4 linked regions of the Homo sapiens genome follow. The protein of the gene in region 2 interacts with the protein of the main gene of each other region in a biochemical or structural test. Each region holds a gene or a part of one and is shown on either strand. Other genes may lie near its edges.

What was found.
Region 1: of the proteins of MAPKAPK2 (region 2) and CDC25A, one has a biochemical effect on the other in vitro, tested with the Homo sapiens proteins (one study listed by IntAct).
Region 3: of the proteins of MAPKAPK2 (region 2) and RCSD1, one has a biochemical effect on the other in vitro, tested with the Homo sapiens proteins (one study listed by BioGRID).
Region 4: of the proteins of MAPKAPK2 (region 2) and LSP1, one has a biochemical effect on the other in vitro, tested with the Homo sapiens proteins (one study listed by BioGRID).

Annotation. Positions count from the first base shown.
Region 1 is NC_000003.12:48,185,401-48,192,600, reverse strand, and holds the start of CDC25A (M-phase inducer phosphatase 1), read left to right. Parts: upstream 1-4,183; 5' UTR 4,184-4,653; coding exon 4,654-4,823; intron 4,824-5,821; coding exon 5,822-5,898; intron 5,899-7,200. UniProt on the Homo sapiens protein: Tyrosine protein phosphatase which functions as a dosage-dependent inducer of mitotic progression. Directly dephosphorylates CDK1 and stimulates its kinase activity. Also dephosphorylates CDK2 in complex with cyclin-E, in vitro.
Region 2 is NC_000001.11:206,722,899-206,729,919, reverse strand, and holds part of MAPKAPK2 (MAP kinase-activated protein kinase 2), read right to left. Parts: intron 1,211-7,021; coding exon 1,071-1,210; intron 886-1,070; coding exon 821-885; intron 525-820; coding exon 445-524; intron 1-444. UniProt on the Homo sapiens protein: Stress-activated serine/threonine-protein kinase involved in cytokine production, endocytosis, reorganization of the cytoskeleton, cell migration, cell cycle control, chromatin remodeling, DNA damage response and transcriptional regulation.
Region 3 is NC_000001.11:167,696,229-167,703,249, forward strand, and holds part of RCSD1 (capZ-interacting protein), read left to right. Parts: intron 1-870; coding exon 871-1,614; intron 1,615-7,021. UniProt on the Homo sapiens protein: Stress-induced phosphorylation of CAPZIP may regulate the ability of F-actin-capping protein to remodel actin filament assembly.
Region 4 is NC_000011.10:1,848,365-1,856,100, forward strand, and holds the start of LSP1 (lymphocyte-specific protein 1), read left to right. Parts: upstream 1-4,719; 5' UTR 4,720-4,780; coding exon 4,781-4,833; intron 4,834-7,736. UniProt on the Homo sapiens protein: May play a role in mediating neutrophil activation and chemotaxis.

The sequences.
Region 1 (7,200 bases), on a different chromosome or scaffold from region 2:
GCCCAGGCTGGAGTGCAATGGCATGATCTCAGTTCACTGTAACCTCCGCCTCCTGGGTTCAAGTGATTCTACTGCCTCAGTCTCCCAAGTAGCTGGGATTACAGGCGTGTGCCACCACACCCGGCTAATTTTTTGTATTTTTAGTAGAGACGGAGTTTTGCCATGTTGGCCACACTGGTCTCGAACTCCTGACCTCATGATCCACCCACCTCGGTTTCCCAAGGTGCTGGGATTACAGGCGTGAGCCACCATGCCCAGCCAAAATAAAAAATAAAATTTTTAATTAGCTAGGTTTATGGGTGCATGCCTGTAGTTCAGGCTACTCAGGAAGCTGAGGTGGGAGGATCACTTGAACCCAGAAGTTCGAGGCTATAGTGAGCCATGATCATGTCACTGCACTCCAACCTGGGCCACAGAGCAAGACTCTGTCTCAAAAAGTGAAAAATAAATAAGAAACAGAATATGACCAGTTGCCAATATCCCCTTCATGGCCCCTTGCAGTCACCACCATCTTTCTGAAAGGTAACTAGTACCATAACTAACTTTTTTTTTTTTTGAGACGGAGTCTCGCCCTGTCACCCAGGCTGGAGTGCAGTGGCTCAATCTCGGTTCACTGCAACCTCCACCTCCTGGGTTCAAGCAATTCTCATGCCTCAGCCTCCATAGTAGCTGGGATTACAGTTGTGCACCACCATACATGGCTAATTTTTGTGTATGTATATATGTGTGTATATATATGTTTGTGTATATTACATGTGTGTATATATGTATATTACATATGTGTGTATATATGTATATATACATATATATGTATATGTATATATACATATATATGTATATGTATATATACATATATATGTATATGTATGTACACATATATATGTATATTATGTATATATACACATGTATGTATATTATGTATATATACACACATATATGTGTGTGTGTGTATATATATATATATTTTTTTTTAGTAGAGATGAGGTTTCACTATGTTGGCCAGGCTGGTCTCGAACTCCTGGCCTCAAGTGATTCGCCTGCCTCAGCCTCCCAAAGTGCTGGGATTACAGGTGTGAGCCAGACCTAAACAGCATGTTCTCTTTTGTGTCTTCCTTCTTATGTTTGACATTGATGTGAGATTCACTCCTACTGTGGGTAGCGCTTCTGTCCTTTTCATCACTGTATAAAATAACTTTGTTCTATTTACCCATTTTATTGTTGATGGGCATTAGGGTTGCTTTCTGTTTGGAGCTAAAATGATTAACATGGCCATGAATATTTGTGTACATGCATTTTGGCACACTTGAACTGTATTGTAGCTTCTGTGCCAACTTTTCCCTTCCCATGGCCTTCTGTGGCCACCTCCTCGCCTTCCTACATGATTTCCATAGTTGCCTGTGACCTCATTCTGGCCACCTTCAGTGACTCTCCTGGGTGCACCTCTGAACTATGGACTCGGCTACTCCCTTGTGGTTTCTATCTCAGCCCCAGCTTTGCGGTCCTGTCTCACTACATCAAGTCCTCAATGCTGGTGCTCCCCAGATCCAGGGTCCTAAAAACCCTTTGTACATCCTCAATGGGCATTACCATCTTCATGCTAATCAACACCAAATCTGCCTCCTGACTACACCCCCCAGCCAGTCCACCAGCACAAAACTGAGCTCATCAAATTCCTCCAAGAAGTATGCCTCCAATTGTTGAAATGTTACATCCACCCAGGTACTTGAATCATTACCTAAGAATCATTCTAGCCTCCTCCCTTCCCTCTAGCCCCCTACAATCTTAACTCTCAATTATCAAAATCTGATGAGATCTACCTCCTTCAGGGCTCACAGAATCATTCCCTTCCTTTGTCTCCAAGGCCCCCACCTTGCTTCAGAATCTCCCAGACTTTTGAGACAGCCACCTCCTTTTTCCTCAGGCCTCCCCACTCTCCTCCACTGATCCACCCTAAAGCAAATCTGATCCGGTTATCACACACCCTCCACTGTCCACAGGATAAGGCCAAACTCTTCAGCAAACTCCAATCCTTTCAAGAACTGTCCCTCACAGCCAGTCCCATGTGCCCATTCTAGAACCGACTGGATCAACTCAGGAGTAGCTCCCGGCAAGTACGGCGTTCCTCCTCACCTCCTGGCTGCCGAGGGCCGTTTCCTTAGAAAGCACTTCCCACCAGCCCCAAGCTCCCCTTCTCCAGCAACCTTGACCTTTAGTTTTAATCTCCTTTAGGACGTGCCCCCCACCGTACTGCCTTCCCCAGTCCCCGCCCCTCCTCTAGGTGCCCACCATCCCTCCACAAACCACAGCTATTGTCATGGTAATAATTCCATTATTAGAAGGAGCTTTATGCTCAGCGGACCAGAGCTCCCTGAGAGCAGGGATTGTGGTATTATTTCAAGCACTGAATTTGTTCTAGTAATCCTTAAATAAACATATGTTGAATGAATGAATGCAGTAACAGGAATGTTGAGCCAAGTTTTGTTTTTGTTTTTTGAGACGGAGTCTCGCTCTGTTGCCCAGGCTGGAGTGCAGTGGCTCGGTCTTGGCTCACTGCAAGCTCCGCCTCCCGAGTTCAGCCATTCTTCTGCCTCAGCCTCCCGAGTAGCTGGGACTACAGGCGCCCGCCACCACGCCCGGTAATTTTTTGTATTTTTAGTAGAGCCGGGGTTTCACCATGTTAGCCAGGATGGTCTCGATCTCCTGACCCCGTGATCCGCCCGCCTCGGTCTCCCAAAGTGCTGGGATTACAGGCGTGAGCCACCGCTCCCGGCCTGTTGAGCCAAGTATTAAACCACATAAAACACAGGAGGAGAGGAAAGTATTCAGAGATACGACAGGGAGAACTATTTGAAACAGTGGGACCACAGACCATGTGAACTGTGCAGAGAGGCCTAAATAGCCTGGGGTTTCTGGAGGGAAGGGAGGTTCCTGGGTGGTGGAGCACTGGTGCACAGAAAAGGAGATGAATCCTGAGAGAGAGGTTCCTCACTGTGAAGGGTCTGGTGTTGGGGCCAAAGGTTTGGGGTTTCCACCTGTCCAGCATGGCTTTTCAAACTGTAGGGTTTTTTTTTTTTGAGTGGGGGGCAGGGGGTGTCTCACTTTGTTGCCCAGGCTGGTCTCAAATTCGTGGGCTCAGGCAATCCTCCCACCTCGCCCTCCCAAAGTGCTGGGATGATAGGCGTGAGCCACTAAGCCCAGCAGTAGGTTGCAATTAAATCATGCACTTATGGCCCTCAAAATCCGTCTAGGAGCTGCCACAGGTTCGGCGCTGTAAAAGTAAATATGCCCACTTAGAAAATGGGGATAATTCCTATGTCACAGAGTTGTAAAGATTAAATGAATTAATACAGATTAACACACTGGGAACAGTGTCAAGTGCATAAGCATTATGTAAACTTTAGCTATTATTTGCTATTATTGTGTTTGCTGTTATTTCTCTCTAGGAGCTCCCAGGGGGCTAAGAAGTGGTGGGAAAGAAAGAAATGATTCTAAGAGCATCCAATAAGGGCTAGAATGGAAGTGAGCAAAAAATGCTGAGGCCCACAGCACAGGTTGTACTGCGGGGTTCAAATCCCATGAGGCCAGCAGCACCCAGGGTCTGTGAGCCCTCCAGAGTTGGGCCCTGGTGGTCGAGTCCAGTCCTGGGGGTCATTGCATTCCCTCCCTCATTATAAAATGGGGCCTGGAGGCCCGGGGCGGAAGAAAGGGGTCCACAATACTGCACGGTTAGAGGCCGAGCCAAGGCTGGATCCGGCCAGACCTCCACAGGTCTTCCTTAGCCTCCACATTGCCTCAGAGTGTGGGGCGCCCGGCTGGGGGCGAGGTAGCGGAGGCCCAAAGGGGGCCGAAGCTAACTGGACGGCAGCTCGCGATGGGAACTACGCTTCCCAGCATGCGACGGGGCAAAGGGGCCTTTCAGCCGCGAGCAGCGCCTCGCAGGTTCTGCTGGGAGTTTTCATTGACCTCTGCTCCCCCTCTCATTTTGATCCCCGCTCTTCTGCTCTGGGCTCCGCCCCCTTCTGAGAGCCGATGACCTGGCAGAGTCCCGCGAGCCGCTTTCTTCTTCCCCTCTCATTGGCCCAGCCTAGCTGCCATTCGGTTGAGAGGAGGAGAAGTTGCTTACTGATTGGTGGATTCCGTTTGGCGCCAACTAGGAAAGGGGGGCGGGGCAGCAGCTGGCCCCACTGAGCCGCTATTACCGCGAAAGGCCGGCCTGGCTGCGACAGCCTGGGTAAGAGGTGTAGGTCGGCTTGGTTTTCTGCTACCCGGAGCTGGGCAAGCGGGTGGGAGAACAGCGAAGACAGCGTGAGCCTGGGCCGTTGCCTCGAGGCTCTCGCCCGGCTTCTCTTGCCGACCCGCCACGTTTGTTTGGATTTAATCTTCAGGTTGCCGGCGCCCGCCCGCCCGCTGGCCTCGCGGTGTGAGAGGGAAGCACCCGTGCCTGTGGCTGGTGGCTGGCGCCTGGAGGGTCCGCACACCCGCCCGGCCGCGCCGCTTGCCCGCGGCAGCCGCGTCCCTGAACCGCGGAGTCGTGTTTGTGTTTGACCCGCGGGCGCCGGTGGCGCGCGGCCGAGGCCGGTGTCGGCGGGGCGGGGCGGTCGCGGCGGAGGCAGAGGAAGAGGGAGCGGGAGCTCTGCGAGGCCGGGCGCCGCCATGGAACTGGGCCCGGAGCCCCCGCACCGCCGCCGCCTGCTCTTCGCCTGCAGCCCCCCTCCCGCGTCGCAGCCCGTCGTGAAGGCGCTATTTGGCGCTTCAGCCGCCGGGGGACTGTCGCCTGTCACCAACCTGACCGTCACTATGGACCAGCTGCAGGGTCTGGGCAGGTAAGGAGAGACCGGCGGGCGGTGCTCCGGGCCCCTGGCCTCGGTGTCGGCCTCGGAGAGATCAGGCCAGGAAACGGACCGGGAGAAGGGCGAGACCCGTCCGTCCGGGTTCGCCGCTCGGGGACAGCCGGGCTAGGGCCTGCCATGTGCACCCCCGCCCGGGCGGAATGTTGGGCGGGAGAGGCCGTCGGGACCTTCCAGGGGAAGAGGTGGAGATCCTTGGGCCTAAGCCCGAGCCAGGCCCACCTTCACCCCTTTCGGATTGCTCCGTACTCTCCTTCTATCTCTATCCCTGGAAGCTCTTTGGAATCTACCCCCGCGGGGAAAATCAGGCTCTTCTAGGCACTCACTTTCACCCTTTGCTAAACCATCCTCAGGATCTTCGTTTGCTGTGATCTTTGTTCCTTCTCAACAAAGGACCATGGCATTTTCTTTCCTGGCGTTTATGTAAAATCATCTCAGTCCCTCGCCCTGTGCACATTCCTGATGTCCACTCTGCTGCTTTCCTAAGGCCAGGTCTTTTTACCCAACTTTCAGAAAGCTTCCTGGGCTTTTCCTGATAGCAAAAAATGCATCCCACGGTGTTTCCCGCGGAAGAGCTACTTTCCCTTCAATCTCTGGCATCCCGTTTGCTAAGCACATGTCTTGTGCGTTTCCCAACTTCTGAAAAGCAGAAAGTGTCCTGTTCAACTTTCATCCCGACTCTGTCTCAGTACTTAGAACACATGCTTTTATTTTAGGAAATACCCCAACATTTGCCATAGCCATCATAACCTGCAATGTGGTCCAAGGCCATGCCCACCCACTCCTTTTTTCTCCTTTGCCCAAGTGCTAATTGGGTGTTCAGAGTGGCAAAGTGGGATCTTTGCCACTTGTGGTGTGGCCTAGAAATGGTTTCTGGCAGCCTGGCTGCTTCTTAATCTCATGGCCTATCTCCTGCATGTGACCTTTTAATTATATCCTATAAATCATTCATGGTTTATTTCTGTTGGTTTCAGTGATTATGAGCAACCACTGGAGGTGAAGAACAACAGTAATCTGCAGAGAATGGGCTCCTCCGAGTCAACAGATTCAGGTATTTAAGTCTGCTGTGTGGGGAGCAATACTCTGAATTTCCTGAAACATGCCTTTTCACCCAGGAGGTTAGTTTTGGTGAGAACTTGAGGAAGTCATGGCATTGGGTGATAAACTTTTTTTTTTTTTTTTTTGAGACAGAGTTTCGCTCTTGTCGCCCAGGCTGGAGTGCAATGGCATGATCTCAGCTCACTGTAACCTCCACCTCCCGGGTTCAAGTGATTCTCCTGCCTCAGCCTCCCGAGTAGCTGGGATTACAGGCATGCACCACCACACCCGGCTAATTTTGTATTTTTTAGTAGAGACAGGGTTTCTTCATGTTGGTCAGCCTGGTCTCGAATTCACAACCTCAGGTGATCCGCCTTCCTCGGCCTCCCAAAGTGCTGGGATTACAGCGTGAGCCACCGCGCCCGGTGATAAACATTATTGAGAACAATACAAAGGAGCCCTTGTGGCTGTTTATGAAGAAAGGAAATAGGTTTCAAATGTCTATAAGGAGGTGGTGTGTGCTTGCCCTTGAAGGATGGGTAGTAAAGTATAATTCACCATACCACTGTAAGTGGCATTCAGGCAATCTTACTGGTTAAAATACAGGATCAAATGATTGGAAGTACAGTGTCATGAAATCATTTCAGTGATGCTGCTATGGAGGAAATTGCCAGTGCATTTCATTCTTCATGAATTCATATTACTGCAGAGTTTATCTGTATTTGTACAGATAAGACCATTGGTGCAAAGATCCTTTAGGTTAAAGGAACTGCAAGAGCAAGTCTTAAAATGTAATGTAGGCTTCTGTATGTAGAATGTAATTTAATATAGAACTGGGGATAGGATTATCACTTGTAGCAGTGTGGTGAGCAAGGGCTGTAACACCTCACTTTCCATAAGGCTGTATAGACACATGAGCTATGGGTGGGTGGGTCTGCGTCATCTGAGCTGGCATATTAGTAATGCTGAACAGTGTCTCCTTCACCCTGCTGCCTTTTGTGAGATGGACACCTTGGTGTCATTTTGTTAAAGGCAGCAAGTGCTTGCCTTGCATGTCATGACCAGTAGTTGTATTTTTCTTTTTCATTTTGAGACAAGGTCTCAACTCTGTCACCCAGGCAACTCTGCCTCCCAGATTTAGAGAATTCTTCTGCCTCAGCTTCCCTAGTAGCTGGAATTACAGGTGTGGGTCTCAAACTTCTGATCTCAGGTGATCCACCCACTTCGACCTCCCAAAGTGCTGAGATTACAGGGGTGAGCTACTGCACCTGGCCTTTTTTTTTTTTTTTTTTTGAGACAGGGTCTTGCTCTGTTT
Region 2 (7,021 bases):
ATCAGAAACGAAAAGGATCCTGGTTCCTCCCTTCCTCTACTCATCCAGCAACCATTTGCCTATCCTGGGCACTGCCCACCACGAGGAGTGGCAGCTCTCTATGGGCAGGTGCCTGCCTCTGCAGGGTTTCCAGAGTGCCTGGAGATAACAGACTGACACACAGAACCCGCAGTAAACACCACAGGAACAGAGAAACCAAGAGTGTGACTGAGGGGTTCTGCCTGAGGAGAACCACAGGGCTGAGTGGGGCCAGAGAATGCTTCACTACTGGGTTTAGGGGTTTGCCCATGGGCAGAGAGGGCAAGGCCCTACAAGGCAGAGAATGGCATGCTCAGGAACCAGGCAGCAAGGACGCAGGGTGGCCTGGCAACCATCTCTGGGGTGGCCACAGCCCCTTTGTTGCCCCCCACAGCACTCGGGCTCAGGGTTATGAACAGCTGGCACCTTGACATCCCGATGGGCAATGTTGATTGAATGCAGATACTGGATGGCCTCACCGATGCTCTTCATGATTTCGGATGCTTCTGTAGAGGGGAGGGAAGAGTGAGTGGGAAAGAAAGTCACAAAGACACATCATTAGGCTTGAAAACCCAGTGCACCGGGTCCCACCTCTGTGCAGCCTGAGGCTCCCCACAGCCACCACCCACCCCAGAAACAAAGCCACCAGGAGCTTCCCTGGTCAGCTGAGGCACCCCTTGCAGCATGCTGGAGGGGGCAGCAGCCTCAGCACCCTTCCCCAAGAGCAGGCACTGCAAAGGCCCCCTTCAGACCCCCACTGCCCTGCCTGCCTGCACGTGCTCCCACAACAGACCCTTTCTACCTCTTTCTGTGAATGCCTGGTCTCCTCGATCCTGGATTCGGCTAAAGAGTTCTCCACCGTCCAAACTGAAATGAAGCCACAGTGAGATCCAGAGAACACAACAGCCCGCCGCCACTCTCCACTGCCCCCCAAAAAATCAAGTGTTTACATTCCAGGCTTCAGGCCCATCCCTGGGCTGTCCTCAGAGGGTAAGGTGCCTGAGTGAGGAGTGGGAACAGGCTGGGCCGGGACTAGAACAGTGGCTGCTTACCATTCCATGACAATCAGCAGGCACTTCCTCCCTGCGTACAGATTCTCGTACACATCCACGATCCGTACGATGTGCGGGCACTGGGAGGCCCGCCAGTGCAGCTCCACCTCCCTGCGGGCCTTGGGGCAGTCCTGAAGCATCTGCAGGCCAAACAGCTTTCTGAGTAACTGCGCTGTCACATGGGCCTGCTCTAAGCCCCTGGCCCACATGCCCTGACATCGCCACCGACATACCACAAACCCCCCACTCCTGCTGGCCCCCCCCACCAGCCCCCTTGGCACATTTCCTGAGGCCTCTGCAGTTCCTTATCTGCTCTATATGAAATCTCATGATGACTCTCTTGGGGCCTTGACAGCTACACTGAGATCAGCCCTCAGGCCATTCGGTCCAGCTTAGACCTGTCTCCAGCTTAGGCCATAAAGTCTACTGTGGAAGGCAGGCAGCACTCAGGTACTGGGAAGCAGGGGGTGAAGGGGCTTCGGGGAGAAAGGCAGACTGAGAAAAACCAATACAGTATTGGAAAGGGGGCTAGAGAGAAGAGAGACTCCAGAGTCCATAGGAAAAGGCCCCTCAGCAATTACTCAGACCCAGCACAACAAATCCAGAGCAATATTCTCTCTACCTCTGTAGTTGACTTCAACCTGGCAACAGATGGCCTTGGAAGTCAGCCGGATGCCAGTATGAATCCAGTTATTACTAGATTTCCAAGCTTGAGCAAGTTACTTAACTCGTCGAACCTCACTGATGCCCCTTCTTCTCCCTGGACCAATTGGCTAGGGGTATTAAAGGAGGCTGGCTTCTCACCAGCCTCAGGGGTTCAATCTTGACCTGTCTAAGCCAGTCTCATTAATTCCAGTCCCTTTGCTAGTGACTGGCTTGGGAACAAGCCTACAACTCAACTGGCCAAGAGCCTTGTAAGAAATCTGCTGCCGGGCACGGTGGCTCGTGCCTGTAATCCCAGCACTTTGGGAGGCCGAGGCAGGCAGATCACGAGGTCAGGAGATCAAGACCATCCTGGCTAACACGGTGAAACCCCGTCCCTACTAACAATACAAAAAAAATTAGCCAGGCATGGTGGCAGGCGACTGTAGCCCCAGCTACTCAGGAGGCTGAGGCAGGAGAATGGCGTGAACCCTGAGAGGTGGAGCTTGCAGCGAGCCGAGATCACGCCACTGCACTCCAGCCTGGGCAACAGAGCGAGACTCCATCTCAAAAAAAAAAGAAATCTGCTAAGAGGCTTCTTAAAGGGAGCACAAGAAATGTACATCATCTCTCCTGCATATGGCACCTGGGACCATGACAGTCACATTATTACCAGTAAGGGGGGCCTAAGAGGATAAACCAATGCACTGAGGAAGGCAACCAGGAGAAATGGCAATCACCTGGATCCTCGCTGCCATCACCAGGGATCCCTCAGTACTTCTTTTTGACAAGATAATAAACTCTTCTTACTGTTTAAGCTGCTTTTCATGAAATTGTCTATTGCTTGGAGCCAAAAGCATCCTGATCTACCCTTCCTTTGTAAAGTGGGGATGGATAATGGCTTCTGTTTCACAGATTTGTTGTGAGGATTAAATGAAATATTTCCACAAAGCACCTCACAGAGTATCTGACATGCACTCACTAATAGCTGTCATTTTTATCACCAATTGTCTAAGTGCAAGCGCAGGTGCCAAAATAATTAAGACAAGGACACTCACAGATTTAGCATCTTCATGGGAAGTCAAGATGAGCCCTACACAGTCCACACTCCAACTGCTTTGGACATTCAGAGGGCTGGGGTGTCCAAGAGACATGCTGGGAAGGAAATGGACAGGCAGAGGGAAGGCATGAAGGCAGAGGGAAACGTGGGAAGCAGGTGCTGACTGACCGAGATGGAGTGGAGCTGGGGTGATACAGCAGGGAGGCCTAAGAACCTGCTGGAAAGTGTCTGAAGCTTGCAAATAAGATCAGATGGCCATGATGGAGCCAGCTTGCAGAGGGAAGGGAAGGACAAATGAGCATTTCCAACAAGAATGCTGGCATACATTTATGCTATGGCCCATGATATGTTGGGTTTTTCCTAACTGTACATTTGCCATTTTACAGGATGGGGAAGCTGAGGCTCAGAGAAGTAGCATGCCCAAGGCTAAGTTTCTGAGAAAAGGCAGAGCCAAGGTTGGAATCCAGGCCTGGTAGACTCCAAAGACCAAGTCTTTCCACCACACCACCCAGCTTTTAGAGGAGGCTGGAAGCCAAGATTTCTCAGACTGACTTTGCAGAGGCAATTCCCCAAACAGGTGACTAGAAGGAATCAATGACTAGATAACTCGGTCTCTCCCATGGAGTAACAGGTGGCCGGAGCCAATAGTTGCAGGAGGCAAGGTTCCCAGGAGGTCACACTGCCACCTTGTGGCCATATGAGGACACCTCATGGGTCTTGAGTTCTGCCACTTTCAACTTCATTAGGGTTTGTTTGTTTCTGAGACAGGGTCTCGCTCTGTTGCCCAGGCTGGAGTGCAGTGGCACAATCTTGGCTCACTGTAACCTCCGCCTCCCGGGTTCAAACAATTCTCCCACTTCAGCCTCCTGAGTAGCTGGGATTACAGGTGTGAGCCACCACGTCTGGCTAATTTTTTGGTATTTTTAGTAGAGACCGGGTTTCGCCATGTTGGCCAGGCTGGTCTCGAACTCCTGGTCTCAAGTGATACCCCACCTTGGCCTCCCAATGTGCTGGGATTACAGGTGTGAGCCACCATGCCCAGCCTTCAACTTCATTCATTTGGATGTACCAGGAAAAAAGTTTACTTTCCCATGCTCTAAGGGGAGCAAGAGAAGGCACTGGCCAATTTCCTTTGTATATAATTCAATCCAGCAAGCATTTACTGAGCTCCTACTATGGGCCATGCATTGCACTGAATGTCAAAACCAAATAGAGCAGTCCTGATCTGGAAAAGCCTAGGCTAGTGGGGGGCAGAAGAAGATATGAGGGGAGACACAGAAAATCCTTAAAATCCAGTGAGATTACATGCTGTAAGAGTGCTAAATTCAAAGGGTTCAGGAGGAACAAGGTTTCCAGAGCAGCCAAGCAGAAAGAACCTCGATCGCCCCCTACAGGCACACAGGAACTGGAGCCCAGAGGAGAAGAATCAAAGTTGTCAGATTTACTCAGAAGCAATGCCTGGTTGTAGAGTTACAATCAGGGAAGACTTGGCCCAGTCTGAAATTTGTCAATTTCTTCTTGCACAGCCTCACAGAGAGGTCTACCTTTCAGAGCCTGTGCCACATGCATTTAGGAGCGATGATACCTGCCTAGCCTCCCCCTCATAGAAACATTATGAGCATCTAATGAAATAATACCTCTAAAAGTGCTTTATTATCAGAAAGGCATTCATCACTGTCAACCAGTACCATTAATGCCACAGTACAGGGGGGTTCCTCCGTCACCACTGAGTTGAGCTTGGAGCATGTGGATGTAACCAGCACAAGTTATCACCAAGATTGTAGGCTGGGTTTCTGTCTTCAGCCCAGTGACGACCACCAGGACATCTGCCAACCAGAGCTGTGCTAAGTGAGGATGCACCAAGATCCAAATCTAAATGCATGCTCCTTAGCACCCCCTGAATTCCAAGCGCTCACTGCAACTTCCGCACTTTCTGCCCTGAACACGTTAGGAGTGCGTGGCACAAGGCAAAGGAGAGTTTGTGCAAGAAGGGCTAGGTTCACATCACACTTCCAGACTTGCACAAACTCTCTACCCATTAGAGGAGACGGATGTAGCACAGTGAACCTAGGCTTTGCAATCGCATGCATTTTGAATCCCAGTTCTGCACTTCCTAGCTTGTGTCATGCAAGCCCACCTATCTTTCTGGAAAGGGTTTCCTCATCTGTAAAATTAGATTCAACTTCGTGAAATAATATCCTTGAAGGTGCTTCAGAAACTCTATATAGGGTAGTTTCCACTTTGAAAAAATTTACCATTTTGCATATTTATGCCTTATCTGCCCAACCTAACTGAGTTTCTAATGGGCAAGATCTAATTTGATTTCTGTTTACTCCCTCCCCTCTTCCTTCCCTCACCTAGTGGTTAGGAACTTCTGAGCTAACACCCCCTCATTCTGTTGCTTCTTCTCCCTACTAAACTCTCTCCCCCAGTGACTGAGGGTGAGCTGTCCTTTCCATCCTGAAATAAATTGGAAAAGGTAGTATTTTAAATTTCTTAGAGAAACTTAGCAAGAATTTCCCATGAAGACTGGTCATTGCACATCCTGCATTTGTATTCCAGAACTTAAATTAAATTTAACAAAAAAAAAAAAAAAAAGGACTGGTCATTGACATCCATCCAGGCACATGTTTATCAGAAATCCCTGACTGGATAAGAAAATCAACCCAAGCAATGAAAGCCCTTCAGATGGGCGAGGCAGGCTGGCTGACGTCCTGGGGGCACAGCCCTGAAGTGCCAAAGTGGCTCTGTGGACAAGTGTGGAGCGCAGAAGGCCTGGAGAGAGGAAACCAAGAATGTGCTAATCTGGAGTACAGGGCTAAGTAAAGAACAGCAGGGGAGGTGGCCTGCACTCCAAGCCAAAGAAGAGACAGGGAAGGAAAGCAGGACTCCTAGGGCACTGCCAGAGGCCACCAGCAGAGCGAGGCGGCAGGTCCACCCAGAAGCCAAGGCCCCTGCTCCTTGGGCATGGGCATGGCCATGGGCAGTGAAGGCCAACAGGCCCTGAACCATGCTCTGAGGACTGGAGACTAGAAGAAGGAAGGGTCTTCCCACTAAAAAGCCATAGATCATTAGTCAAAGAATGCCTGGAGGAATTGTGAAATATTTTAAGCCCAAACTAAGCCCCGGTCCAACATTGTGACTCACCTCAGCCCCACAGTTTGTGCCTGAAATTCTCTTACACGTAGAAAAGGTTAATGATTGCGTGTGCTCAGCTGCAACGCCACAGGCAAGGCCCCCTGCCAACTGTGGCAGGGGCAGGGGCCCAAGCCACAGAGCGCATTGCCTGGGAAGGAAGCTCTAGGACAGCGGCAGTGAGGGAGCTGCGGGAGCTGCCTAAATACAGTCCCATGCCTCTCTGTCTCTTCCAGCACCTGAGGGGAAGAAGGACAGGACCCCTCCCCCTATTCAAGGTATGCATGGTTCCCCTCATCTCCTCCTGCAAGTCTGCCATTGTGGAGCCACGTGGAAAGACTCAGGAGTGGTCAGCATTAGAAGCCTGGCTGAGCCAGAGGACAGGAAAGCAGCCGGCACCCAGGGCCTGATGTGCCACTCGTCAGCAAGGTGGACATGAAGACAAGACTGGGAAGGAGCAGGCCCCAGGCCCTCAGGAGGACCCCCTTCACAAGCGCCACTGCTCACTAGCTATGTGAACTGGGAAAAGTTTCCAACCCCTTTGTGCCTTGGTTCCCTTACCCATTAATAGGACAGTAATAGTCCCCACCTCATGGGCTTGCTATACAAGATGAGTTAATAGATGTGCATGATGTAAATAACTAAGAATAACGCTTGGCACGTAATAAGTACTGCATCCGTGTTTGCTATTATTATTCTGCTCCCCACTCCCCATGTGTTGGAGTCCCACTGGGGGGGGCAACTGGGATTCCATTACACCCATTTCAATGAAGGTGTTATTAATAGCTCTGGGCACTGGACAGACGGGGGACCCCAGGACACGGGGAGGAAAGCAGGCTGTGGCATCCCAGCCCTGTACACTCCCTCACTACACCACCTAAGCTGGGCGCATGTAATGAGAGAAGGAAGACATCCCTCCCCAAGACAGACTCTGATTCAGCGCCAAGAGCGATGCAAAAGGCTGATTCTGGCACCAAGTGTGTTGTGGGTGTGTGGTGCGGTATGTGTTGGCAAATAAGACCTCCTCTTCACTCCCAGGAGGCAGCTGGGGGTCGGGGGAAAGCCACGTGTGTCACACACTAACCCACCGTGCCTCCAGGCCAGGGCCACCCAC
Region 3 (7,021 bases), about 39 Mb from region 2:
AAAGTACAATTTTCAAATTTTTCAAAATTTTACAGTGCAATAAAATCATAAGTTATCTTTTTTACTGGATAGGAAGCATTTTGCATCTTCACAAGATAAAAGTCTGACTCTTATGCAAAATAGAGATTTTATTCAATATGTCAATTTATGAGGAAACTTGTAAGATGGTAAAACTTAGTCAAACAGCATTTGAAGAACTGGTTATTTATAGATAATTAGACAATTTCTTTTTTTTTTTTTTAATGCAGGGTCTTTCTGTGCTGCCCAGGCTGAAGTGCCATGGTGTGATGACAGCTCACTGCAGCCTCAATCTCCCAGGCTCAAGCTATATTCCCATCTCAGCCTCCCAAGTAGCTGGGACCACAGGCATGCACCAGCACCCCCAGCTAATTTTTCTTACTTTCAGTAGAGATGGAGTCTCGCTACGTTGCCCAGGCTGATCTTGAACTCCTGAGCTCAAGCGATCCTCCTGCCTCAGCCTCCCAAAGTGCTGGATTACATGTGTGAGCCACCATGCCCGGCAAGAATTTTTTTTTAAGTGTCAGAATAAAATTACTAAATTAGACACCGAACTGATTAATGTTTTACAGTGCAATAAAATCATGAGTTTTTGTTTTTGTTTTTTACTGAATGGAAAGCATTTGCATCTTCACAAAATAAAAGTCTGCAGGTCACCATGTGATTTCACAATCCCACATGGCTCTAATCTATAATAAATAGCAAACAATGATTCGTTCTCCTGGAAAATTAAACGGTCCTTGCGTGGACTTGTGAAGCAGTGCACCAGACTGACATTGAAAGTGCATACAGTCCTCCTCTTGGCCTTTTTTTATGAGTTTTTGGATAACTTTCCTTAACACTTTCTTCTAGGTGCGGACGAGGGGCTCAATAAAAAGGCGCCCTCCCTCCAGGCGATTCCGAAGGTCACAGTCAGACTGTGGAGAACTTGGAGATTTCAGGGCGGTGGAGTCATCTCAGCAGAACGGTGCTAAGGAAGAGGATGGGGATGAAGTGTTGCCATCCAAGAGCAAGGCCCCAGGATCCCCTTTGTCCAGTGAGGGAGCAGCGGGAGAGGGAGTGAGAACCCTGGGACCTGCTGAAAAGCCTCCTCTGAGGAGGTCACCCAGCAGGACAGAGAAGCAGGAGGAGGACAGGGCCACAGAGGAAGCCAAGAACGGTGAAAAGGCCAGGCGGAGTTCAGAGGAGGTGGACGGCCAGCACCCGGCCCAAGAGGAGGTCCCGGAATCGCCCCAGACCTCTGGCCCAGAGGCAGAAAATAGGTGTGGGAGCCCCAGGGAGGAAAAGCCAGCTGGAGAGGAAGCAGAGATGGAAAAGGCTACAGAGGTGAAGGGGGAGAGGGTGCAAAATGAAGAGGTGGGACCTGAACATGACAGCCAAGAAACAAAGAAGCTGGAGGAGGGAGCTGCAGTGAAGGAGACCCCCCACAGTCCCCCTGGAGGAGTGAAGGGCGGAGATGTCCCCAAGCAGGAAAAAGGCAAGGAAAAACAACAGGAGGGGGCAGTGCTCGAGCCAGGCTGCAGCCCCCAGACCGGCCCTGCCCAGCTGGAGACCAGCAGTGAGGTCCAGAGCGAGCCAGCAGTCCCCAAGCCGGAGGTAGGTGGCCTGGCTCGTTCACATGCAGAAGGCAGTGCCAGGGCCAGTGTGTGCCTCTGTCACATGTCCTGTTCCGTACAGTCCCTTCATAAATCAGCTCGACATGCAGAAACAAAGGTGCCAGGCTCCTGCCTCGTGCCAACTTGTTGGAGAAAGGCTGTCGCTGAGGCTGAGGGGACAAAAGGACACAAAGAGGAAGTGTGTCTTCTGCTCTTGCCAACTTCTCGCTGACTTGGAGTTCTGGCAAGCTTCTGGGTGTGTGTGAGTGACCGAGCCTCGGCACGGCTCAGTAACTGAGGCCTGCAAGCATCTATGGAAGCCTGCTGAGTGCAGGAGCCTGGGCATGCTGCTGCAGGGGATCCAGAGATGAAAAAGAAAGGGGAGCTCCTTTCTAAAAATCATCTCAGTTTAGCACATGAGACCAGCAACTCTTTCATGTGCATGAACAAGGTGGAATAGGGCAGTGGACAGGGGGCATTCCCAGGGAAGCCCAAAGTGCAAGTGTAGCAGAAACAATTTGTGTGTGGATGGGACAAAAAGCTGGGGATGCTTCAGGGCCAAGGTAGTATTTGAGTTGGCCCTCAGAGAAAGAAGCTGCATGTGATGTTGGGACGTTCACTCTCTCTCAGGGATTGGGCATCTGCTGCACATGAGGAGGACGGGGTGACTCAGTCCCTGCCCTCCTGCCTGGGCCTGCATTTACTGGCCCTTTCCTCTACACCTGTCTGCTCCCCACCAGCTCCCAGGAAGCCCATCTTGAGCTCACCTATCTATGCTTTAAGAGCAGAACCAGCTCTGCAGAGTCCCTAACAATCTCATCAAGTCAGTCACCCACAATTGTTTCACCCGTCGCTTTTGTTAGTGCATTCATTCATTCATGCGTTCATTTACTCACACCACTATCAGCTTCCTGCTACAGTAGCCTCTTTGTTTGTTTGTTTGTTTGTTTTTTGTTTTTGTTTTTGTTTTTGTTTTGAGAAGGAGTCTCGCTGTGTCGCCCAGGCTGGAGTGCAGTGGCGGGATCTCGGCTCACTGCAAGCTCCGCCTCCCGAGTTCACGCCATTCTCCTGCCTCAGCCTCCCGAGTAGCTGGGACCACAGGCGCCCGCCACCACGCCCGGCTAATTTTTTGTATTTTTAGTGGAGACGGGTTTCACCGTGTTAGCCAGGATGATCTCGATCTCCTGACCTCATGATCCACCTGCCTCGGCCTCCCAAAGTGCTGGGATTACAGGCGTGAGCCACCGCGCCCGGCCTTACAGTAGTTCTGGCTTCCTGCTTCCACTTTTTTTTCCCCCTGCGTATATAATCCATTCTCTGGACAGCAACCAGCAGGTTTGGTTTGTTTTTTAGATCAACTGCTCTTTGCTAAAATTATTCGCCTCTTGTATCAGGGTCGCCATAAAAAATTACCACAAACTTGGTGGCTCAAAACAATAGAAATATACTTTCTTACAGCTCTACAGTTCAGACCTTCAAAATTAAGTTGTTGGCTGGGTTGGTCTCCTCTAGCAGTTCTGGGGGAGAATCTGTTCCTCTCCCTTAAGTTCTGGCAGCTGCCTGCAACCCTTGGAATTCTCCCTTGCCTCCTCTGGCTCCTGGTGGCTGCTGCAATTCATGGCATCTCTTGGCATCTAGATGCACCACTCCAGTCTCTGCCTCCATCTCCATCACACGGCCTTTCACTGTTACTGTGTGTCTCATAGTCCCCCTCCTCCCCCTTATAAAGATGTCAGTCATTAGATGTAGAGTCCACCCTAAATCCAGAATGATCTTGTCTTGAGATTCTTAGTTACATCTGCAAAGAACCTTTTTCCAAATAAGGTCAAATTCACAGGTACTATGGGTTTGGATTGGATGTACCCACCTCTCCCTGACTCTCCCCCTCACTGTGATCCAGCCATGCTGAGGTCTTTTTGTTCTTCCAATACAGCAAGCTCATTCCCACTTCAGAGCTCTATCCTTGCTGTCCCCTCTGTGTGGGACATTCCTTCTGATCCTTACAGGGCCGCTTCTTACCCACGGCTCAGAGCTCAGCTCAGATGGTCCCTTCTCACTGAGGCCTGTCTGTGCCACTCAGTCTAAGTGGACCTCCCTCCATCCCATCAGTTATTTTCTCCCACGATTCTACTTTTATCATAGAACACATCACTATTTGAAATTCTCCTGTGTATTTTTTAATTGTATTTCTCTACTCCTTTTCCTCACTGCATCTCCAGCACCTGCTACAGAACCTGGAACATAGTAGGTTCTTTAAAAAAATCTTTGTTGAGTGAATGAATGGATTTTAAAAGAAGACAGAAAATTGTCTGACCCAAAAGAAATAATCTCTAATGATAGAAGTACAGGTAGAAGAGGAACTGATGTGTTTAGGGGATCTCCTGGGGCCCTCACGTTATTCTCACTCACGCTAGATCAGGGAGAAAAATGTGTGAGTCCCAAAGACTCATAAAGTATGACTGAGACCCCTGGGTTAAGTTGTTAGGCAGAGGTGCTCCAGATTTCTTTAACATCTTCCATTCCAGTGCCAGGCGTGGTGGCTCACACCTGTAATCCCAGCACTTTGGGAGGCTGAGGCGGGTGGATCACAAGGTCAGGAGATCGAGACCATCCTGGCTAACACAGTGAAACCCCGTCTCTACTAAAAATACAAAAAAAAATTAGCCAGGCGTGGTTGTGGGCGCCTGTGGTCCCAGCTACTTAGGAGGCTGAGGCAGGAGAATGGCGTGAACCTGGGAGGCGGAGCTTGCAGTGAGCGGAAATCGCGCCACTGCACTCCAGCCTAGGTGACAGAGCAAGATTCCGTCTCAAAAAAAAAAAAAAAGCACAACAACAACAAAAAAACTTTCCATTCTAAGTAAGCAATCTTTACATTTAGGATTTTCTGGAACTGAGAGATTCCACCAGGTCTAGAGAAGGCAAATACATGCCCCAATCTGTTAGTCCTTTTTGAGGATGAAGTCACTGGGTCCAAGTAGTCACCTGCCAGTGGTTGCTACATCTTATTTTCAGGTTAGGAGACACCTGCCTTGCCAAGAGACCTCCCCATCTCACTGACAGCATCTTCCAATCCTGAAGGGTTGAAAAGTCACTTTGGTTGAAAAGCTAGTAGGGAAGAGGGCTGCTTCAGGGAGGTCTCAGGTAGAAGAAGTCTTCCTGCGGGAACTCCAGGAGCTCTGGGGCAGGCTCACTGGTAATCTCTCAAGCCTTGCCACTTCCGTATTCCCAACAGAGCCTTGGGCAGGGGAAGAGAATGCCCAGCAACCTCAAGAGCACTCTCCTCCCAAATAGGCAGCTCAGATGGAGAAAGAGTAGCTCCACTTCCATCTCTGAATGGAATGAGAGGAATGCTTTTCCTCTCGGTCATCTCTGAGATGCCAAACTTTGACGCCACTTAACCCAATTGCCTAGTTTCTTTCTTTCTTTCTTTCTTTCTTTCTTTCTTTCTTTCTTTCTTTCTTTCTTTCTTTCTTTCTTTTTTTTAGATGGAGTGTTGCTCTGTCACCCAGGCTGGAGTGCAGTGGCACAATCTCAGCTCACTGCAAACTCTGCCTCCCAGGTTCAAGTAATTCTCCTGCCTCAGCCTCCCAAGTAGCTGGGATTACAAGCCCGCACCACCATGCCAGGCTATTTTTTGTATTTTTAGTAGAGACAAGGTTTCACCATATTGGCCAGGCTGGTCTTACACTCCTGACCTCAAGTGATCTGCCCACCTCAGCCTCCCAAAGTGCTGGCATTACAGGAGGGAGCCACTATGCCCAGCCTAGTTTAGAGAGAGAAAGAAACCAAGGCTCCAAGAGAGGACAGGAGTTGTCCATGGTCACAGAGCTCAGTCAATGTTGACATATTAGGCACCTGCCCAATCATCAGAATAAACTGCTTACAAAGTACCTGTGCACGTGTGCATAATTTGTTTAATCTGGAAGAGGGCACTGTCTCCAGTCCTCCCTGTTCCTCTTAAACCAGGTCAAGGTCAGAATCAAAATGCCTGAGTCACTAGTGCAAAAGGAACCATCAGTAAGAACAATTACAAGGTTGACCCCTTGAGTTATGGGCTTCCTCAGGCACCCATGTCTGTCCCAGGTCTTTCCTGGATCCCCCAGAGGCAGCACACACCTCTAAGCAGTTTTCTAACCCCCTAACCTAATTCCCATCTTGTTCCTCTGTCGGTAGAAATAGATTGATCAGACAAACTAATTATGGTTGCATTCATGCAATCAGCATTTAACAAGCACCCGTTATCCCTACCACTATGTGAGATACTGGGAGTCAAAAGTGAAGAAGACAGAGGCATAAACAAATAACGACAAGGCAGTAGAATAAATGGGATTCTGCCCTAGAAGGGTGCTATGTGAAGCACAAAGGCTGGAGCAATTTGTTCTTCGAGAGAAAACAGGGGAAAGTTCCATAAGTGCGCCAAAGGCATCAGACGTGTGAAAGCACTATAAAGGGTCACCTTACTGTTAGGTTGCCCCTCACAAGTGTTTTAACATATCGTACTGAAAGAAGGAGTCATCCTGGGGATTTCAATCATAGGCAAGCTGGACGTATCAAGTCACTGCACTTAGGATTCTGTTTATAAGGAAAAGTCGCCCTGAAAAGAGGGCACAGAATCAGATACAACTCTAATACTTAAAATAAATTTAGCAAGTGTTATCTGGGCGTGGTGGCTCACACCTGTAATCACAGCACTTTGGGAGGCTGAGGCGGGCAGATCACTTGAGGTCAGGAGTTCAAGATCAGCCTGGCCAACATGGTGAAACCCTGTCTCTACTAAAAATACAAAAATTAGCCAGGGGTGGTGGCGTGTGCCTGTAATCCCAGCTATGCAGGAGGCTGAGGCAGGAGAATCGCTTGAACCCAGGAGGTGGAGGTTGCAGTGACCTGAGATCGAGCCACTTCACTCTGGCCTGGGTGACAGAGACTCCGTCTAAAAATAAATAAAATAAATACATAAATACATAAATACATAAATAAAAATTTATCAAGTGTTTCTCAAACACTCATTATGTATCCAGTATTGTGTAGGGCACTCAGCTATGCCAGAGACTAACTTACCCAAACAAAGACATTCGAAATATTTGGATATCAAATCTGAGACTTTGCTGTATTAACAATAAGTGCCGACTTCCTAATTGCCTGATTCAATTGCTTTCCAAGTCATTCCCCTTGGTTTCTCAACATTTGATTTGAAATTCTTTTCTCCCTGAGCTGATGAAATACATCCTTCTCTTGAGAATCCCCTACCTTTGTAACTTTGTAGTGTTAACATTGTTCTTTCTTTCTTCTCCCTCCTGGTTAACTGGCAGGTCAACAGACTCAGTTCTTGGCCCTATTTCTTCTCAGTTCTTTTGGGGACACACTCCCTGCATTCCCACCTCAATCATCCCTCAGACACATTAACTGTC
Region 4 (7,736 bases), on a different chromosome or scaffold from region 2:
GCCTGTCCGCTCTGCTAGGGGCAGCTGTCTGGTCACTGCCCTCTCCTGGCATCCCTCCGATCCACCCGGCCCCCTCGAAGCCTTCCCTGCCCCTTTCCTGTCTGTCTCTGTCCCCGTTGAGAGCTTCTCTTCCTCACTCTCTTCACTCCTGGGCCAGATTCCCAAGCTCACCAGTGGCCACGGCCAGTGGAAGGAAAGGGGCCGAGTGACCCCAGCTCGCGTGCAGGGAGAGGGCACAGCCCCCAGCTTTGCTCCCCACAGCAAACCCCTCCAGCACCTGCGTGTGCCCACAGAGTGATTTGCCAGGGAGGGGCGCTGCGGGATGGCCTGTACTGCGGGACGTCCTTTCCAGCCCATGGTGCCAGCACACAGCATCTCCTGCCCAGGCCTCTCCCTGCTCGGCTGGGACTTCTACACGCACCTCCAGCCTGCTACACAGGTCCCAACCCCCGGCTTCTCCCCTCAAATCCAGGTCTGCACCTCTCAGACATCTGCCTTGTGGCCTCTGCACCTGGAGTGTCCCTGTGTCCTGCCCGCCTGGCACAGAGCTCCTCCTGGCTCACCCCTCAAGGCTTCCCTGCTTGGCTCCATCCCCCGGAATCTGATGCCCTCAGCTGGCTCCATCCCAGAATCCAAACTAACTCATCACCTGATGCAGCCGCTTGCTGGTCCCCGTGCTGCTCGCTGGACCCTGCACCAGATTTGGAGACAGGACAACGGAGGGGCCGGGGTCTGCCCTCCACACACCTCCCTTAGAGTTTCAGGCACTGAGGGAAGAAATGATTCTGCATCTGATTCTTGGGTAGACTCTTAGCTCTTCAGAGGAAGGCTCTGTTCCTGTTTAACCTCCCACCCAGCAAGGCCCACACCGTTCTCAAACACGCATGCACTGCCCGGGTGCAGTGGTTCATGCTTGTACTCCCAGCACTATGGGAGGCTGAGACAGGAGGATGGTTTGAGCCCAGGAGTTCAAGACCAGCCTGGGAAACATGGTGAGACCCCATCTGTACACACAAAAAATTTTTTAATTAGCTGGGCGTGGTGGTATGTACCTGTGATCCCAGTTATTTGGGAGGCTGAGGCGGGAGGATCACTTGAGCCGAGGAGGTAGAGGCTGCAGTAAGCCCTGGTTGCACCACTGCACTCCAGCCTGGGTGACAGAGCAAGACCCTGTCACACACGCTCGTGCGCACACACACACACACACACACACACAGAAATGCCCGGACGGCCTGAGGGGTGGCTGGGCCCTCACTGGGGACACCTCCTCCCTTGCCCACGCCTGCCAGTCCAGGCTGAGTGGAGAGAAGGGCTGGAGGCAGGGGCTTGGCCAGGGAGGGAAGGAGTGAGAAGCGGGCGGCCACATGGGCTGGGCAGCCTCCGGGATGCTCTTTGCTTTTGTTTTTTTGTGAAAAGGTTGAGTGATTTGCACATCAACGTGGAGGGTGTAGGGAGGAGAGGCTGGGGGACCGGGAGGAAGGTGGATGGGCCGCAAGATGGCCCTGGCGTCTGCGGAGGAGTAGCTGAGTGAGAGAGCAAGAGTCTGCCTTCTCCACGACGGTGATGTGGGCAGGAGAGAGGGCTGGACGGCCACAGGAGGACACCCTGCACCCTGGCTTCCCTTTCCTCTGCGATTCGGGAGGTGAGGGCGTACATCTGCTGAGAAGGCCTCCCAGAGCCCCGTGAGCATCCTGGAGTGTGCCTATTCCTCGGCCTGGGTTCCTTGAGAACAGGCAGGGCTCCCCCACGCCGTGGCCTGCTTGTGAGACGTGTCGCTGGAGGGGTTGTCCTGCTGCCCTGTGGCTGCCGTGACGTTGAGCTCCCACATTCTGGAAGTCCGAGATCCTGGGGTGGGCAGGACTGGTTCTCCTGAGGCCTCTCCCACTGCTGGGGGTCCCGGTGCCCCTTGGTGCAACTGTCTTGTGGATGCCTCACCCTCATCTCCACTGTCTTCTCATGGGGAGCTCCCCACCGTGGGTGTCTGTGTCCCGTGTCCACATTTCCTCTTTTTTTTTTTTTTTTTTTTTGAGACAGAGTCTCACTCTGTCACCCAGGCTGGAGTGCAGTGGCATGATCTCAGCTCACTGCAATATCCGCCTCCCGGGTTCACGCCATTCTCCTTCCTCAGCCTCCCAAGTAGCTGAGACTATAGGCACATGCCACCATGCCCGGCTAATTTTTTTTTTTTTTGTATTTTTAGTAGAGATGGGGTTCCACCGTGTTAGCCAGGATGGTCTTGATCTCCTGAGCTCGTGATCTGCCCGCCTCGGCCTCCCAAAATGCTGGGATTGCAGGCGTGAGCCACCGTGCCTGGCTCACATTTCCTCTTTTTGTAAGGAAACCAGTCACACTGGCTGAGCGGTCACCCTCCTCCACCGTGACCTCATCCAGCTAATGACACCTGAAGCAACTCCGCTTCCAAACACGGTCACGCTCTGAGGGGTTAGGCTAGGGGTAGGGTTAGAACTTCACCATATGAATGTGGGTGAGGGGCATGATTCAGCTTCAACAGGGTTGGGTAGGCAGAGGGGAGGAGGGCACACTCTCCAAGCCCTTGGGGCAGGCCGATCGTCACCCCAGCCTTCAGCTCCAGGGCCTGTGGGCCTCCCCCTCCGCCCGAGCGGCTTCGTAGACCTGGGGCTGAGTGTGGTTTTGTGCTCTGTGTCTCCCTCTTGAAATTCTTAGGGTTTTTTTGTTTTTGTTTTGTTTTGTTTGAGATGGAGTCTAGCTCTGTCGCCCAGGCTGAAGTGCAGTGGCACGATCTTGGCTCACCGCAAACTCCGCCTCCCAAGTTCAAGCGATTCTCCTACCTCAGCTTCCCGAGTAGCTGGGCTTACAGCCGCCCGCCACCACGCCTGGCTGATTTTTATATTTTTAGTAGAGATGGGGTTTCACCATGTTGGCCAGGCTGGTGTCAAACTCCTGACCTCAAGTGATCCACCTGCCTCGGGCTCCCAAAGTGCTGGGATTACAGGTGTGAGCCACCGCACCCGGCCAAAATTCTCAGTTTTTGAACCACAGGGTTCTGCATTCTCATTTTGCTCTAGCTCCAAAAGTGAGGCAGCCGGTCCAGCCTTCGGGCAGTAGAGGGCAGGAGGGGGTGGACCCCAGCCTCCACCTGCCTGTCCTCTTCCTGGCAAGGTTCCTGAAGCTCCCAGCGACGATGCTGGGGCTGCCCTTCTGCAGGCCAAGGGAAGGACCTCAAGGGCAGGAGGACACAGGCATTGCACCTGCCGATGCAGTGCCTGGACGGGTGGGTGAGCGGAATGGCTGCAACCTGGAGGCGAGACCCTACCACCATGAGGGGAGCCGTTTCAGGATGGCCTCAGGATGGAGGCCGCATGGTGAGAACCGCAGGGCTCTGCCATGTGCCACTCTGCAAGGGGGACTTGGGGGCCCTTAGGGACCCCCAGGGAGGAGGCGTGGGGAAGACACAGGCATGGCCTGTTCATCTCCATGGCGCTGGGCCTGATCTGGTTTTAGCCCTGCCCATCGTCTGGGCCACGGATCCCTCTGGTGCCTCCACTCGTGGGGCTCTGAAAGCCTCTGCTGGTCTTTGTGGTGTGTTTGGTGGGTGGGGGGCTCGCTGAGTCCCAAGGAGGCGGCCTCCGGTTCGGCCCCACCCTGATGGGTCAACACTCTGGGCCCAGGGCCCTCCCAACCCCTGGCCTCTCTCCAGCCCCTCTTTGCCTTGGGACCCCCTGTAAGTCCTTGCTGGTTGGATTTCTCAGGCCCAGCCGCTGGCCAGGGCTCCCTTCTCCCATTCTCCTGCGCTGAGGTTTCCAGCAGGGAAGCCTTCGCCACCTCTGTGGCTGCCCTACTCTGGCCCAGCTTAAGTCCTCCCCTGCCTCAGCTTTTGGGGTCTGGCTCCTGCAGTCATGCATCCCTCCTCCTGACCCTGGAGCCACTGCGTGGTCACTCCCAGAAGCTGGGGACAGTGAGGGCTGGAAACAGCCTCCATCCCTCCCCTCGGGCTGGCCTATGCCTCTTGGGAGGGTCCCTGAGGCACTGCCTTTAGAGCCTGGGGACACGAACCACTCGGTGGTCAACTCCAGCGACCAGAGCACGGAGAGCAAGGGGCAGCGGGGGGACGAGGCGGATGCCCGACAGCTCGGCATCAGCAAGGCAGTCCAAGACAGAACAAGGCACCCGACGGGTAGAACGCAGGGGCATCCCGGGCACAGCCCCCAAAGCCACCTGGGACCCACAGCTGTTTGATGTGCTCAAGGCTATGACCCCAGGCTTCGAGAAAAGACTCCACCAAGTTCCATGAGCACCTGTAGGAGAGCCGGCCTCTGGGTAGATTTCACCCAAAGAAGCTAAAACGCTCACGTGGTGCTTATGGGATCACAGACGTGTTTGTCCCTGATGCTGCAGGAGAACTGGCCACTCACAGGTGGACCTGATGGCCAGAGCTACTAGCGGGGACCAGGGGTAACATGGGTCCCCCTCCCCGAGCCATGAAGAGCTGCCTGCGGCCATCTTGGCCCTCGCACCCCGTCTCTGTCACCCCAGGCCCCTGTAACTTGCTTAACGCTTCCTGAGGGGTGGTTTGGGTTTTTTTTTTTTTCTTCCTCTCCTCTTGTAGCAACAGATTAAAAAACAACACCCTGACCCAAGCCGAGACAGGTTCCAAACCTCAACCTGCAGCCGGAAGGGGGAAGTGAAACTCGGCTGGGGGTGGGGGCTCAGAAGCCGCCCCAGAAAGCACTGAAAGCCACAGCACGTACACCCACTCCAGGGATCTGCCAGCACCCTGTGGGGCCCAGACTACAGGCTGATGGCGGAGGCTTCGAGTGACCCGGGTGCCGAGGAGCGGGAAGAGTTGCTGGGGTAAGGGTCTGCGGCGACGCCCGGCGCCCTGTGCCGTGTCCACGGGTGCATAGTCCTTGAGCTGCATGGAGGGTGGAGAACTGAGGTGCCTGATGGGGAATCTGGGGCCCCCAATGGGAGAACTTGGATGTCCGATGGGGAAACTGGGGACCCACAGACAGGTGGCAGGAAGTCTTGCTGGGACCCCCCTCTCACAACAAGGGTGGAGGTCTCTTCCGCCTGCCTCTGTGCCCTGGACTCACTGGGGGAGGCGCGTGGGATCCTAAGCCCATGGTGGATGCCTGAAGCGAGGAGACCCCAAGACGTGTCCTGGACTGCCAGGGAGGAGCTGGGGACTGTGGGCCCTGTTAGCTTGGGAAGAGGCAAGGTGGGGGCTGGGGAGCAGCTGTTCTGGGATGGGTGGAACTGGCCCGGGCCTGGCCACCTGCCCACAGGACTATCTGAGAGGGGCTATCCTGCCTTGAGGGTCTGGAGGCCGCCAGGCTTGGGGCCCAGCAGGCCTCAGGGCAGGGCACCCAAAGCTGCCCTTGACCTGCGGTAAAGGACAAGGCCAAGGATTCTGGCAGGTGCCTGTGCTGGGTGCCAGGCACCGTGTGTTGGTTGGAGTGGGGACATGAGGGGGCATGGCAGAGGTTGTGTGTAGGACTGCCAGAGCTGGGCAGAAAAACCCCGCTGCCAAAGGCCTCCTAGCGGGCAGCTGTACTCTGTGGTACCAATGGGCATCCAGCCCTGTGCTGGGGTGGGTGGAGAGGGCTAGCGGCTTAGTAACTGGGCTCCCTGGCAGAGGGGAGCTGCCGGCCAGCAGGCATCCAGGCATCACAGCTGAGCCTCGCCAGGGGAACCCGAGTTGCCCCCGGTGCAGGTCCCAGAAGAGATGGGAGGGCTCAGGGCGTGCGGTGCAGGGACAGGTAGGGCTTTGAGGGGCAGAGGGGCGACGTGCTAATGGTCAGGGGATGGGGATCCGGTGCTGGGGATAGAGGCCGGCCTAGGAGCAGGTCAGCGGGGGCTGTGGCCTGGTGTGCGGAAGGGAAGGCGCTGGGGCCCAGGTTGCAGAAAGAGTGTGATGCCCGCAGCCACACAGGACGGACCTGAGAGGAGGCCCAGGGTGACGCTCACATACCCCAAAACTGCAGCCAGGGCTGCTACCAGTCTCTGCCTTGGTGCTGACAGCAGAGGGTCCCGGTCTACCCGACCCGGGGCGGTGCAGGGACCACCTCCCGGCCTTCACACAAAGCTCCTGTGCTGTTGGTGGCTGCAGTCACTGTCCTGTGTCTGTGTCCTTGGTGGCCGTCACATTGCTGTGGGTCTGGTATGTGTGAGGGGTCTGCATCTCTGACTTCTTGCTGCCAAATCCCACTTGGGTACAGGTGCGGGGGGCCACTGAAGGGACCCCGAGTGCCGTGAGTGGAGTGGAGGCTAAGCAGAGGCCGGGGCTGGCTGAGGGCTGGGTCGGGACGTCCGTGCCTGTCCCCAGGGAGAGGTGGGAGGATGCCCTGCCCAGGCCGTGTGCAGGGAGACAGGCTTCTGGGTGCACAACAGCTGTGTCCCAGCTGCAAAACGGGCCCTCCTGTCAGCACCACCCCCAGCCCTGGACTAGGTGCTGCTCCTGGTCACCTCATGCCCATAGAAGGGCAGGACATGAGCCTCTGGGCTGGGGCACCCCCGCCTTCCTCCTTGGCCTCATCCTTGGCCACCCCCTCCCAGCTGTCTCAAATGCCCTGGATCCCCCGGGCCAGGAGCGGGGAGGGGGGGTTGGAGCGGGCATGGCCAAGGCACAGATGATCCTGGGGCATCTTGGTGCAGATCCTGGGAGGCCAGGGCTGCACCTGTGCCGGGGCTGTCAGGCGCTCCAGCTGGAGAGCGGCGGTTCTCCTGGGCTCTGCAAAGCCTGGACCCCCTCCTTGGACATCCCCTGCCCCCGCGAATTGCATGGGGTGCGCAGCCAAGCCTGACCTTTCAGAATGAAACTGAGAGCCCCAGTGGGGTAGGCTTCTCATTTCACAAGGTGACTAAGGGAACCGGGGAGTTTCCTGTCTAGGATGGGACAGAAGTCCCCTGCACCCAGGCAGGGATGTATGGCCTGGGAAGCCCCCACACGGGAGTCCCCAGGAAGGCCCAGGCTGGGCAGGCTCAGCTGGGGCTGGAGCAGTGGACAAGACAGCCCCCCGTGCATGTCACAGAGTGCCAGGTACGCCAGCCTGTGACGGTCTCAGGACATGCCCTCAACACTAGGTCCAGGGCAGGCCAAGCCCCTCCAGCTGGACAAGTGGGTCCAGCCCCTCAGACTGTCGCATGATGTGGCCCCTCCCCTCAGACTGCCCGGGACGGGGCCAGATTCCTCAGAACCACCCCTCCATGATGTGGTCTCTCAGATGCCCCCAGGACAGGACTGTCCTCTCCCACGAGGCCTCAGGCCAAAGAAGGTCCCCTGACCCTGGGCGGGGTCCAGGCTCCGCTTCGGCTACCAGCCAGGCTGGACTGCGGTTCCTCCACTCGGGGGCACTCCTGTCTCGCCCCGCTGTCCAGCAGACAGTCACTAGCTTGTCCTTGTCCCTTGGGGGCAGGGACGAGGATTTCACAGAGCTGCCTTGTGGCTCTGGGGGGACTCTCTGGTGACGCTGGGGGATGCCTGCCCTCTATAGCCCCCAAGAGCAAGGCTCTCCCCACACTGAGGAACTATCTGGCCTTGGAGGCCTTGAGGCGATGAGGACGGGGCGTCCTGGTCCACAGCTGGGGAGGGTCAGGTTGCCCTCTCAGACCTTGGGTTCGACATATCCAGATGTTGGAGCCCAGCTCTGCAGGGGTGTACCCTCCCTGGGGTCACACTGCATTTTTGGCTGCAGTGCCTGTCCTTGGCCCAGCTGCCCGGGGGTGCCCACCCGCCCAGGCGTGCCCACCCCATG